2 separate regions of the Homo sapiens genome follow, and region 1 is linked to region 2. The links come from fine-mapping of genetic effects on gene expression. A gene starts in region 2. The other region holds a variant in brackets. All regions are shown on one strand. Distances are between the middles of the regions.

Region 1 (5,371 bases), 29 kb before region 2:
CAAAACTTATGGCCGGGCACGGTGGCTCACGCCTGTAATCCCAGCACTTTGGGAGGCCGAGGCAGGCAGATCACAAGGTCAGGAGATGGAGACCATCCTGGCTAACACAGTGAAACCCCATCTCCACTAAAAATACAAAAAATTAGCCGGGCGTGGTGGCAGGCGCCTATAGTCCCAGCTACTCGGGAGGCTGAGCCAGGAGAATGGCGTGAACCCGGGAGGCGGAGCTTGCAGTAAGCCGAGATCGTGCCACTGCACTCCAGCCTGGGCGACAGAGCAAGACTCCCTCTCAGAAAAAAAAAAAAAAACCAAAAAACTTATGAGACACAGGTAAAGGCCAGGCCAGGCCCGGTGGCTCACGCCTGTAATCCCAGCACTTTGGGAGGCTGAGACAGGCAGATTGCTTGAGCACAGGAGTTCGAGACCAGCCTGTGCAACATGGTGAAACCCCATCTCTACTAAAAACAGAAAAAATTAGCTGGCGCCTGTGTTCCCAGCTACTCAGGAGGCTGAGGTGGGAGGATCACTTGAGCCTGGGAGGCGGAGGTTGCAGTGAGCTATCACACCACTGCACTCCAGCCTGGGCGATGGAGTGAGACCCCATGTCAAAAAAAGAAAAGACATGCCTAGAAGTATAAATGTAATATGTGTGAATGCCTATATTAAGAAAGAAGATCTCAAATCAATAACCTTAACCTAACCTTCCATGTTAAGACAATGGAAAAAGAGCAAACTAAACCAGAAAGAACAGAAAGAAATAATAAATATTACAGTAAAGGTTAATGAAATAGAGAATAGAAAAATAATAGAGAAAATTAATGAAACCAAAAACTGGCTCTTCGAAAACATCAACAAAATTGACAAACCTTTAGCTAGGTTGACCACGGTGGGCAAAAAAAGAGAGAGAAGACTTGGCTGGGGGCGGTGGTTCACACCTGTAATGTCAGTGCTTTGGGAGGCCAAGGCAGGAGGATTGTTTGAGGCCAGGAGTTCAAAAGCAGCCTGGATGACATAGTGAGACCACATCTCTACAAAAAAAGAAAATTAGCTGGGCTTGGTGGTGCATGCCTGCAGTCCCAGCTACTTGGGAGGTTGAAGAATCACCTAAGCCCAGGAGTTCAAGGCTGCAGTGAGCTCTTATCATGCCACTGCACTTCAGCCTGGGTGACAGAGTAAGACTCTGTCTCAAAAACAAAACAAAACAAAACAAAACAAAACAAAACAAAAACTTCAAATTACTCACCAGAATCAGAAATGAAAGAGGGGAGCAACAGAAATAAAAAGCATTATAAAAGGATACAATGATAGCTGTACACCAACAAATTTTATAATTTAGATGAAATGGACAAATTCCTAGTGAGACACAAACTACCAAAACTAATTTGAGAATAAATAGATAATCTGAATAGATGGATAACAAGTCAAGAGACTGATTGGTAAATATAACAACAAAAAACTATACACACATACACACACACACACACACACACACACACTCAGGCCCAAATGGCTTCACCACTGAATCCTACCAATCTTTTGAAGACAAATTAATACCAATTATTTGCAAACTATTAAAAAAAATAGACAAAGAGGTGACATTTTCCACTTCAGTTATGAGGCATCACCCAGATACCAAAACCAGACATATATCACAAGAAAACTACAGACCAATATCACTTATGAATATGGACACAAAATCCTCAACAAAATACGAACCAACCAAATCTAGCAACATATGAAAAGAATTATACACCACAACCAAGTGGAACTTATCACAGGAATGCAAGGTTGGTTCAATATCCATAGGTCAATTGATGTATCAATAGAATTTTTTAAAAAATCACATGATCATATCAATAAACACAGAAAAAGCATTTCACAAAATCCAACATCCTTTCATGATAAAAACACTCTAACAATGAGGAATGGAAAGGAATTACCTTAACCTGATGAAGGGTATCTACCAAAAACTCACAACTAATATCATACTTAATGGTAAGACTGAATGTTTTTCCCCTAAGATGAAGAACAAGACAAGAATACAAGGATGTCTGCTCTAACCACTTTTCTTTTCTTTTTTATTTATTTATTTACTGTTTTAGATGGAGTCTTGCTCTGTCACCCAGGCTGGAGTGCAGTGGCACAATCTGGACTCACTGCAACCTCTGCCTCCTGTGTTCAAGCAATTCTTGTGCCTCAGTCTCCCAAGCAGCTGGGACTACAGGTGCCCACCACCATGCCTGGCTAATTTTTTTTTTGTTTTTGTATTTTTAGTAGAGATGATGTTTCACCATGTTGGCCAGCTTAGTCTCAAACTCCTGACCTCAAGTGATCTGGCTGCCTCAGCCTCCCAAAGTTCTGGGATTACAGGCGTGAACCACTATGCCCAGCCTGCTCTAACCACCCCCCTTTTTTTTTGAGATGGAGTCTTGGTCTGTCGCCCAGGCTGGAGTGAAGTGGCGTGATTTTGGCTCACTGCAAGCTCTGCCTCCCGGGTTCACACCATTCTCCTGCCTCAGCCTCCTGAGTAGCTGGGATTACAGGCGCCCGCCACCAAGCCTGGCTAATTGTTTGTATTTTTAGTACAGATGGGGTTTCACCATGTTAGCCAGGATGGTCTC[G/A]ATCTCCTGACCTCGTGATCCACCCACCTCGGCCTCCCAAAGTGCTGGGATTACAGGCGTGAGCCACCGCATCCAGCCTCTAACAACCTTTAATCAATATTCTACTGGAAGTTCTAGTCAGAGCAATTAAGCAAGAAAAAGAAACAAAAGGCACCTAAATTGGAAAGGAAGAAATACAACTAAATCTATTTACAGATAACATAATCTTATATGTTAAAAAAAATACTGAGGAAAGGAATCCACTAAAAATCTACTTGAATGAATGAGTTTAGCAATGTTGCAGGATACATGGTCAACATACAGAAATCAATTGTAATTTTATACATTTGCAATACACAATCAAAAAATAAAATTAAGAAAAACATTTGATTCATAATTGTATCAAAAAGAATAAAACCCTTAGTGGCCAGGCACGGTGGCTCACACCTGTAATCCCAGCAAGGTCAGGAGTTGGAGACCAGCCTGGTCCGACATGGTGAAATCCTGTCTCTCTAAAAATGCAAAAATTAGCAAGGAGTGGTGGTGGGCACCTGTAATCCCAGCTACTTGGGAGGCTGAGGCAGGAGAACTGCTTGAACCCAGGAGGTGGAGGTTGCAGTGAGCCTAGATTGTGCCACTGCACTCCAGCCTGGGCAATAGAGTGAGACTCCATCTCAAAAAAAAAAACAAAAAAACAAAACAAAACAAAAAACAGAATAAAACACTTAGGAATAAATGTAACAAAAGTGCAAAGCTTACACTCTGAAAACTATAAAATAATGTTGAAATAAATTAAAGAAGATCCAAATAAATGGAAAAACATCCCATGTTCACGGATTAGAAGACTTAACATTGTTAACATGGTACTATTCCCCAAACTGCTTTATAGATTCAGTGCAATTCCTATCAGAATCCCACCTGACTGTAGAAATTGACAAGCTGAATCTAGAATTCATATATTCTGCCTACACTGGGTTGTGAGAAAAAAGAAAATAGAATTCATATAAAATGCGAGGGTCCCAAAATACTGAAATAACCCTGAAAAAGAAAAACAAAGTAGGAAGACTCACACTTTCCAATTTCAAAACTTATTGCAAAGCAACAGTGATTAAGACAGTATAATATTGGCATAAAGACAGACATGTAGACCAATGGAACTAATGTGGGAGTCAGAAAGTAACCAATTTATCTATGGTCAACTGATTTTCGACAAGGGTGACAAGACCATTCAGTGGGAAAAACATAGTCTTTTCAACAAAGGGGGCTAGGACAACTGGATAGTCACATGCAAAAGAACCTTCCACTATACACAAAAATTAACTTAAAATGGCTCAAAGACCTAAGTGTAACAGCTAAAATTATAAAACTCCTATGACTCAATAATCAAAAGATGACCCAATTTTTTAAATGGGTGAAGGGATAGGTGTGGTGGCTCATGCCTGTAATCCCAGCACTGTGGGAGGCCCAGGTAGGCAGGTCGCTTCAGCCTAAGAGTTTAAGACCAGTCTGTAGACTCTATCTCTACAAATAACTAAACAAAACAATTAAATGATATAATAAAATAATTACAAATAATTTAAAAATTAGCTGGGCATGGCAGCATGCACCTGTAGTCCCAGCTACTTAGATCACTTGAGCCTGGGAGGTGGAGGGTGCAATGAGCCATGATCATGTCACTGCACTCCATCCTGGGTGAAAGGCCAGACCCCATCTCAAAATAAATAAGTTAATTAAGTTAAATAAAAAATGAGTAAAGGATCTGAATAGACATTTCTGCAAAGAAGATATACAATTGACCAATAAGCACATGAAAAGATGCTCAACATCATTAGTCATCAAAGAAAGGCAAATCAAAATCACAGTGAGCTATCACTTCTCACCCACTAGGCTGGCTAGATTCCAAAAACAAATGAGTGAATAATGACGTGTTGATGAGGATGTGGAGAAACTGGAACCCTCACATGCTGCTGGTGGGAATGTAAACCAGTACAGCTCGTTTGGTAAACAGTCAATTAAACAATGAGTTATCAGTAACCTAGCAATTCCACTCTTAGGTATATACCCAAGAGAAATGAAAACATATGAAAGAGAAATTAAAACATACGTCTACACAAAAACTTGCACATGAATACTTAGAGTGGCATTATTCATAAGCCAAATAATGCAAATAACCCAAATGTCTATCGATGGGTTAATGAATAAACAAGATATGGTATATTCATACAATGGCCACAAAAAGGAAAGAAATAGTTACGTGCTACAACTTGGATGAACCTTGAATATATTATACTAAGTGAAAGAAGCCAGACACAAAAGGCAACATATTATAAAATTCCATTCATATGAGAACTCAGAGCAGGGAATTCTACAGACACAGAAAGTAGATTAGTGGTTGCTTAGGACTGGGAGAGGGGATAAGAAGTTTGGCGAAGAGTTAGCTAAAGGGTGGGGGGTTTCTTCCTGAGGTGATAAAAATGTTCTAAAATTGACTGTGGTGATGTACAAATCTCTGAATAAATATACTAAAAGTCATTGAACTGTATGCTTTAAATGGGTGATCTTATATGGTATATGAGATTATATCTCAATAAAGGTTTTTTGTTTTTTTTTTTAAGTGTTTCCACTGACTGTTAAGGCAAGAGGGGGCATGTGTTGTCAGAGAAACTCTTGCTGGAAGGGTCAGGTTCCTAGGCTACCCACAAAGGATTCTGCCCCCAACACAGCCGCACCAATGACAAGCCAACATTGGTGCAAAGAGCTGCCGTGAACCA
Region 2 (5,371 bases):
CCTGCTCCCTAATGCCCCAGGCCTGGACCCCCATGTAGGGGTGGCCAGTAGCCCTTCCCAGGCCTTAGCGCACTGACATTCGGCGCTCGCACCTCCAGTCCGTTTCACAGATGTGGGCGATTTGCGGAAGGCCATGCTGCTGATGGTGACCCAATGTGAAAACCTGGGCTGCCTGGCTCGGCCTCCTGCTGTCCTCCTAGAATCCTATCCAACCTTGTTTCTGCTCAGGACTGCATGGGGGTGCCACACAGTCCTGGTATTTCTTGAGCAACTACTACATGCAAGGCATGGCCTTGCCAGCTTCACAGGTTGGTTGCTGGAAGAACTGAGATGACAGATATCAAAATAGGTAAGTCAGTAATAATTCCTATCATTATTGCTATCACCGCCATCACTACCATGGATGGGAAAGGGGACAGGAAAAGAAGACCATCTCGTTTCTCAGGGTTCTGACACCTGCAGAGCCAAGGCGGCGCCCCATCAGAAGCAATGCATTCTGGGGGGAGATTACCCGAACGCAGACAGTTCCAGAAAAGGCCCCGCCTCACAGTTGCAGAACTCCATCCTGCAGGAGGGTCTCGAGGCTGCAGCCACCAAGGAGAGCCGTTTTGAGCCCTAGAGGCTGACTCCCCCGTTTCCTCCCTCGTGGGTTTGTCATTTCTGAACTCATTTCTGTACTAACCGTCACTGCTCCCTGGACAGCCCCCAGCTGACAGTCAGTCTGGTTCCTGTTTTGAGAAATCTGATTGCAAATGTCTTAGAAAAAAAAAGGCCCTAACGGCCTTTTCAAAATGCAGACCAATTTTCCTCTCCCAGGCCTGACGTTCAGTCAATCCAAACACCCAGTGAGCAGGGCATGGCACAGGGGGGCGGTGAGGGCCATGGGCATGGGGCACCCCTGCAGCGTCAGCCAGAGCTTAGACGGCTGCTTCAAAGGCTGAGGGACACCGCAGAGTCACAGCTCTTATTTCACGCCATCCACATTTCACAGATGAGAAGACCGAGGCCCAGTGAGGGAAGAGACTTACCCAGAGTCACAAGATAAGACCACGGCAGTGTGGACAGGCCCCATCCCCAGCCCGCTGGGGCACCAGGAGGAGGCCAACTCTCAGGCATGCACAAGGAGTTGCCACACGACACAAAGAATCGTGGCGGGCACGTCTGCTCCCTGGCACAGGCCAGGGTAGCTGATGAAATGTAGAACCAGAAGTCTGAAGCCCTGATCTGTTGGCCAGGTGCCACCTGGGACTACCTGTGTGACTCGGGGCAGGCCACTCACCTCTGGAGCTTCAGTTTCCCCATCTGTTCCACAGGGACAAAACCACACCTGTCCTCGCCACCCCATGCGCTGCTGAGAGGCTCACACAGTGGAGAGATACTCTATCAGCCATAAAATGCTGGACAAACCGCAGCAATCGTCCACATCCTGTGTACTTTTGCACCTACATCCTGAACAGTCTAAACTTTGATACCAGGTGTGATGTCAGTTGTCTTACAGAGGCGGCAGCTAAGGTCCAGCCATTGCAGGTGTGCTGGGAGGGCCCCTGGTCAACAGCACCCACGGGGCACCATATGCAGGGCCTGCCAGAGGAGAAATGTAGGGGAGAGGGCACAGGGGATGTTTCCCCGACCTGAGCGCGGTCCGAGGGGGAGGGTGCCCGCAGCACCCTAGGTCCTGCTCACCACGCCGCCCTGAAAGCACTCTCGAGCCCAACTCCAGGACAGCGACCCCACCAGAGGGTGGGAGAAGAGTCCGGAAGACTGGCTGTCCCCCAACACCTCACACAAGTGTAGACTGGAGGAGAGACGGGTGGGGGTAGTGGAAACCCTAAAGCGAGTGCCGTGAGCAGGGACAGCAAAAGGGTGGGTGACATCGTCAGGCGAGGTAAATGGTGGCCAGCGGAGGGGAGGGGACCCCACAGGGACCAAGGGCTGCTCCGAGAAGGATGAAGGGGCGCGCCGGGCCCCCGTGGGAGAAGGCGGGAGCCAGGGGCTGACAGCGACTTCGGGGGGCCGGTGGAGCACGATAAGGAAGCAGCAGGGCGGCCAGGGGGACCCGACTGGGTCCGGGGACCGATGGGGCAGAGGAGCTCCGGAGTTGGGGCGCTCCGGGCTCAGGCGCCCAGGGTCTGGGGCTTAGGGTCTGGACCCGCAGGCGCCAAGGCCGGGCTGCTCCGGGCTGGGGGGCCGACAGGGGGTTGCGAGAGCCGGCCCCGGGGGTCCAGGTCGCGGGGTCGAGCATGGGGCCAGGGTCTCGGGGCCGCGGCCGGGGCGCCCGCGGGGTCGGGCCGGGGCCGCGGGCAGCTTCTCCTCACCTGGGCTCGGGCAGCAGGATCTTCTTGCTGGCGCGCGCGGCCGGCGTGGCCTTGCTCTTCTCCATGGCCATCAGGTAGCTCACGTCGGCCAGCACCGCCTCCAGGTCCGCCATCTTGGCGGCGGCGCTGCCTCCTCCCGCCGCCGCCGCCGCCGCCGCCGCTCCTGCTCGCTCGGCGCTCGGCCCGGCCCGGCCGCGGCTCGCTCGGCCTCGGGCGCCGACGCCTCCCGCCTGGCCCTGCTCGGCGCCCGCGGCTCCGCTCGCCGCCGCTCACAGGCGGCGCCGCCCCATGGCGCCGGCTCGGGCCCGGCCCCGGCTCGCGCTCCGCTCCCGCCGGGACTGCAGTCGGGGCGCCGCCGCCGCCGCCGCCCGCGCGCCCGCGCCCCGGAGCCGCCGCCGCCTCCGGCCCCGCCTGCCGCGCACAACGCCAGCGAGCCCGCGAGGGGCCGAGCCGGGCGGGCGACGGCGCCCCCTGGAGGCCGCGCGGAATCTGACCCCGAACCAGACCTGCGACCGCGGGCTCAGACCCTGGCCGTGACCTCGGCCCTCGATGCTGGACGGAGACCCGGGCCTGGAACACGACAGGGACCCGGCACGGAAGACGACCCGAGACCCATTCTCTGACCACAACCTCGGGTCACATCTCTGGATCCCAGGCTCCCCAGTCGGGCCGCAGCCCTGACACCAAACGTGATCACAGGGAACCTGGACGCTCACCAAGACACAGATTCAGACCTCTGAACACCATCCTGGGACTTTCATCTCAGACCCTGGCTATAACCCCGGACTCCCTGACCTTGGACGCAGTCCACGACCTGACACCAGACTCCAAACAGGACCCCAGACTCAAACCTTGGCCCACCACCTCAGACTCTAACCATGACCTCAGATCACAGCCCTGGGTCTCCAACGCCATACCCAGACTGCGACACTCACCTCAGACCCCCAACAGGTCCCCAGATCCAGATTTTGGACCATGACCTCGATCCCATCCTGGTTACTGACCCCAACCTTGATTCTGACCCTAGGCTACTACCATGACCCTGAACTCTAGACTTGGGGTCAGGACTCAGACCTAGATTGGACTGTCAACTCCAGATCACTGTCCTAGACTCAACACCCAGAACTGTGGACACGGACTCAGGACTAGGACGTCTAACCTGGGACCCACACTGGACCCAGAATCCTTAGTAGGTCACCCAGAACCTGGGACCTGACAACTGCAGCGCAGTTACAGGCTTCCCCCATCCCTGATCCCACCCCTCCTACTCTAGAACCAATCCTGGCCGCAGAAGGCCCACTCAGGATCAAGTACCCTGCACCCAACCCCACCCCCCAACCAGCTCATAGACCCAGGTCCCTGGCCAGCACTCTTGGCAGCTCCCTTCCCTGTACCCCATCCCATCCAGATGTTCCTTCAGGATGGTTCCACATGTAGTTACGGTAAAAACTCTCCCAGCCCGGAAGCGCACAGAGGTTTCAGTGCTGCCTGGCAGGGGAAACCCACCCTGCTGAGAGCCCACCCAGAGTGGGGAAAGCCAGGTGTCTCAAGGCAGCATTCCTATCTCAACATGCCCCTCTCTAGAGCCTCTCTTTGCTTTCAAAGTGACAGGACCCTCCTCCCAGCCCTGGGCACATAAAGCTCAAATCTCATTACCATGCTGTGGGCCAGCAGCCAGCATCCTTTTGCAAAGCAAGGCCCCCATCTCTGTGCACCTCTAGGCTACCATCTTGGATCAGCCCCAACAGAACCTGGAACCAGAGCATGTCAGAGCTTGTGAGGTTCTCCTCTCAGTGGGTGGTGAGTCACTCGCCACCCATATACCCATGTCAGAGCCTCAGTTTTCTTTTCCCCAACTGCTCCTTCATTCTCTCCCCTTCTCTAATCTAATTTGTCACCATAGTCTCCTGTCTGGCCTCCTGAGAATCTCCGTGAATCTGTCTACTTCTCAGGGTCCTCATGGCCAGCCACTGCCCTGATGCAGGCCCTGACCAGGGATGCTTTTCCCAAATCTAGATCTGATGGAGTCACTGCCTGCTTGGCACCCAGAAGCAGCTCTCCAGGCCTTCTGGGGCTACTGAGAGTGAGAGACCTAGAGGGGTCTCTAGGACTCACCACACTCTGCCCAAAGCAGATTAGGTGAACAAACTCCTTAATCTGCAAGTCAAGATCTTGGAGGACTTGGACCTTGAATGCTCCAGTTTGTTTCGCTACCATCCTCTGCACCTGGAGTTTCCCCACCAACTCACCCACCCATTCTCACTTCTGTGCCTCTGCTGTTTCCTGGGCCTGGAAGCCCTTCTGTGTACCTTCCTCCGTGGACAACTCCTACTCATCCGCTAAGACTCACCTCCTCCAGGTAGTCTTCCCTGACTCCCTGACCCCAACTATGTACATCTCCAATTCTACACTTACCACCTTCTAGGCCCTGTTTTCCATTTTCAGTTGCAAGATGCATTGTTGCAAGTTTCGACAGTGGGGAGTGAAGCCTCGTTACATGTCAGCATCAATTGGAAAATGCATCCTGATGTTGGAAATGCTGATATATATATTTAAAGAGGACATACTGTCCCCCACTGTCACTGGTGCCCCTAGTTCATCCTTTGCTCCCAGTGCCCACCACAGGACCCGACTCAAAGGCATCAGTGTTTGATGAGTGAATGAATGAGTGAATGAGCTCTTGGAACACATGGGTTTTGGGGTGGAACAAGGCCAGATGCCACAACATGAAGCCTCTAACCTCCTCTCCCCACAGCCCTGTCCTGACTCCTCTGGACTGCGAGCACAGCCACATGTCAGCCAGGGTTTTCGGGAATAGCCTCTATTTTAAAAATTCTACCTGATGAACTTGTTGGACCAGAGTCTGTGTGTGAGTTCTGAAATGCCAGCCATCCTGTTCCAAGAGGTGGCCTTACCTTCCCATCCCCACCTAAAAACTCAGTCCCTCCCACCCACAGCCCAATCCACACCCCCTGCCAGGCCTGAAGCTGGGGTCTTTTGAGGGGGGCTGGTCTCCCTTCATTGATTCCTGGGCCCAGGAAAAGTGACTTCAGGAA

Evidence for each region. PIP is the estimated chance that this variant, and not a neighbour inherited with it, causes the effect.
Region 1: its variant is the best candidate, but not a certain one, in a credible set for the expression of GRK2 in whole blood (TOPMed, PIP 0.57).

Annotation. Positions count from the first base shown.
Region 1 is chr11:67,292,464-67,297,834 of GRCh38, reverse strand. All of the region lies in intron 6 of ANKRD13D (ankyrin repeat domain 13D), which reads right to left. Among named protein-coding and RNA genes, the nearest start is that of ANKRD13D, 5.8 kb to the right of the region's middle. The variant G/A (reference allele first, on the strand shown) is at 2,622.
Region 2 is chr11:67,263,757-67,269,127 of GRCh38, reverse strand. It overlaps GRK2 (G protein-coupled receptor kinase 2), which reads right to left and starts at 2,655. Exons shown (of 21, transcript NM_001619.5): 1 at 2,316-2,655. The coding sequence starts at 2,428. RefSeq lists enhancers at 327-386, 1,087-1,136 and silencers at 697-746, 2,667-2,866.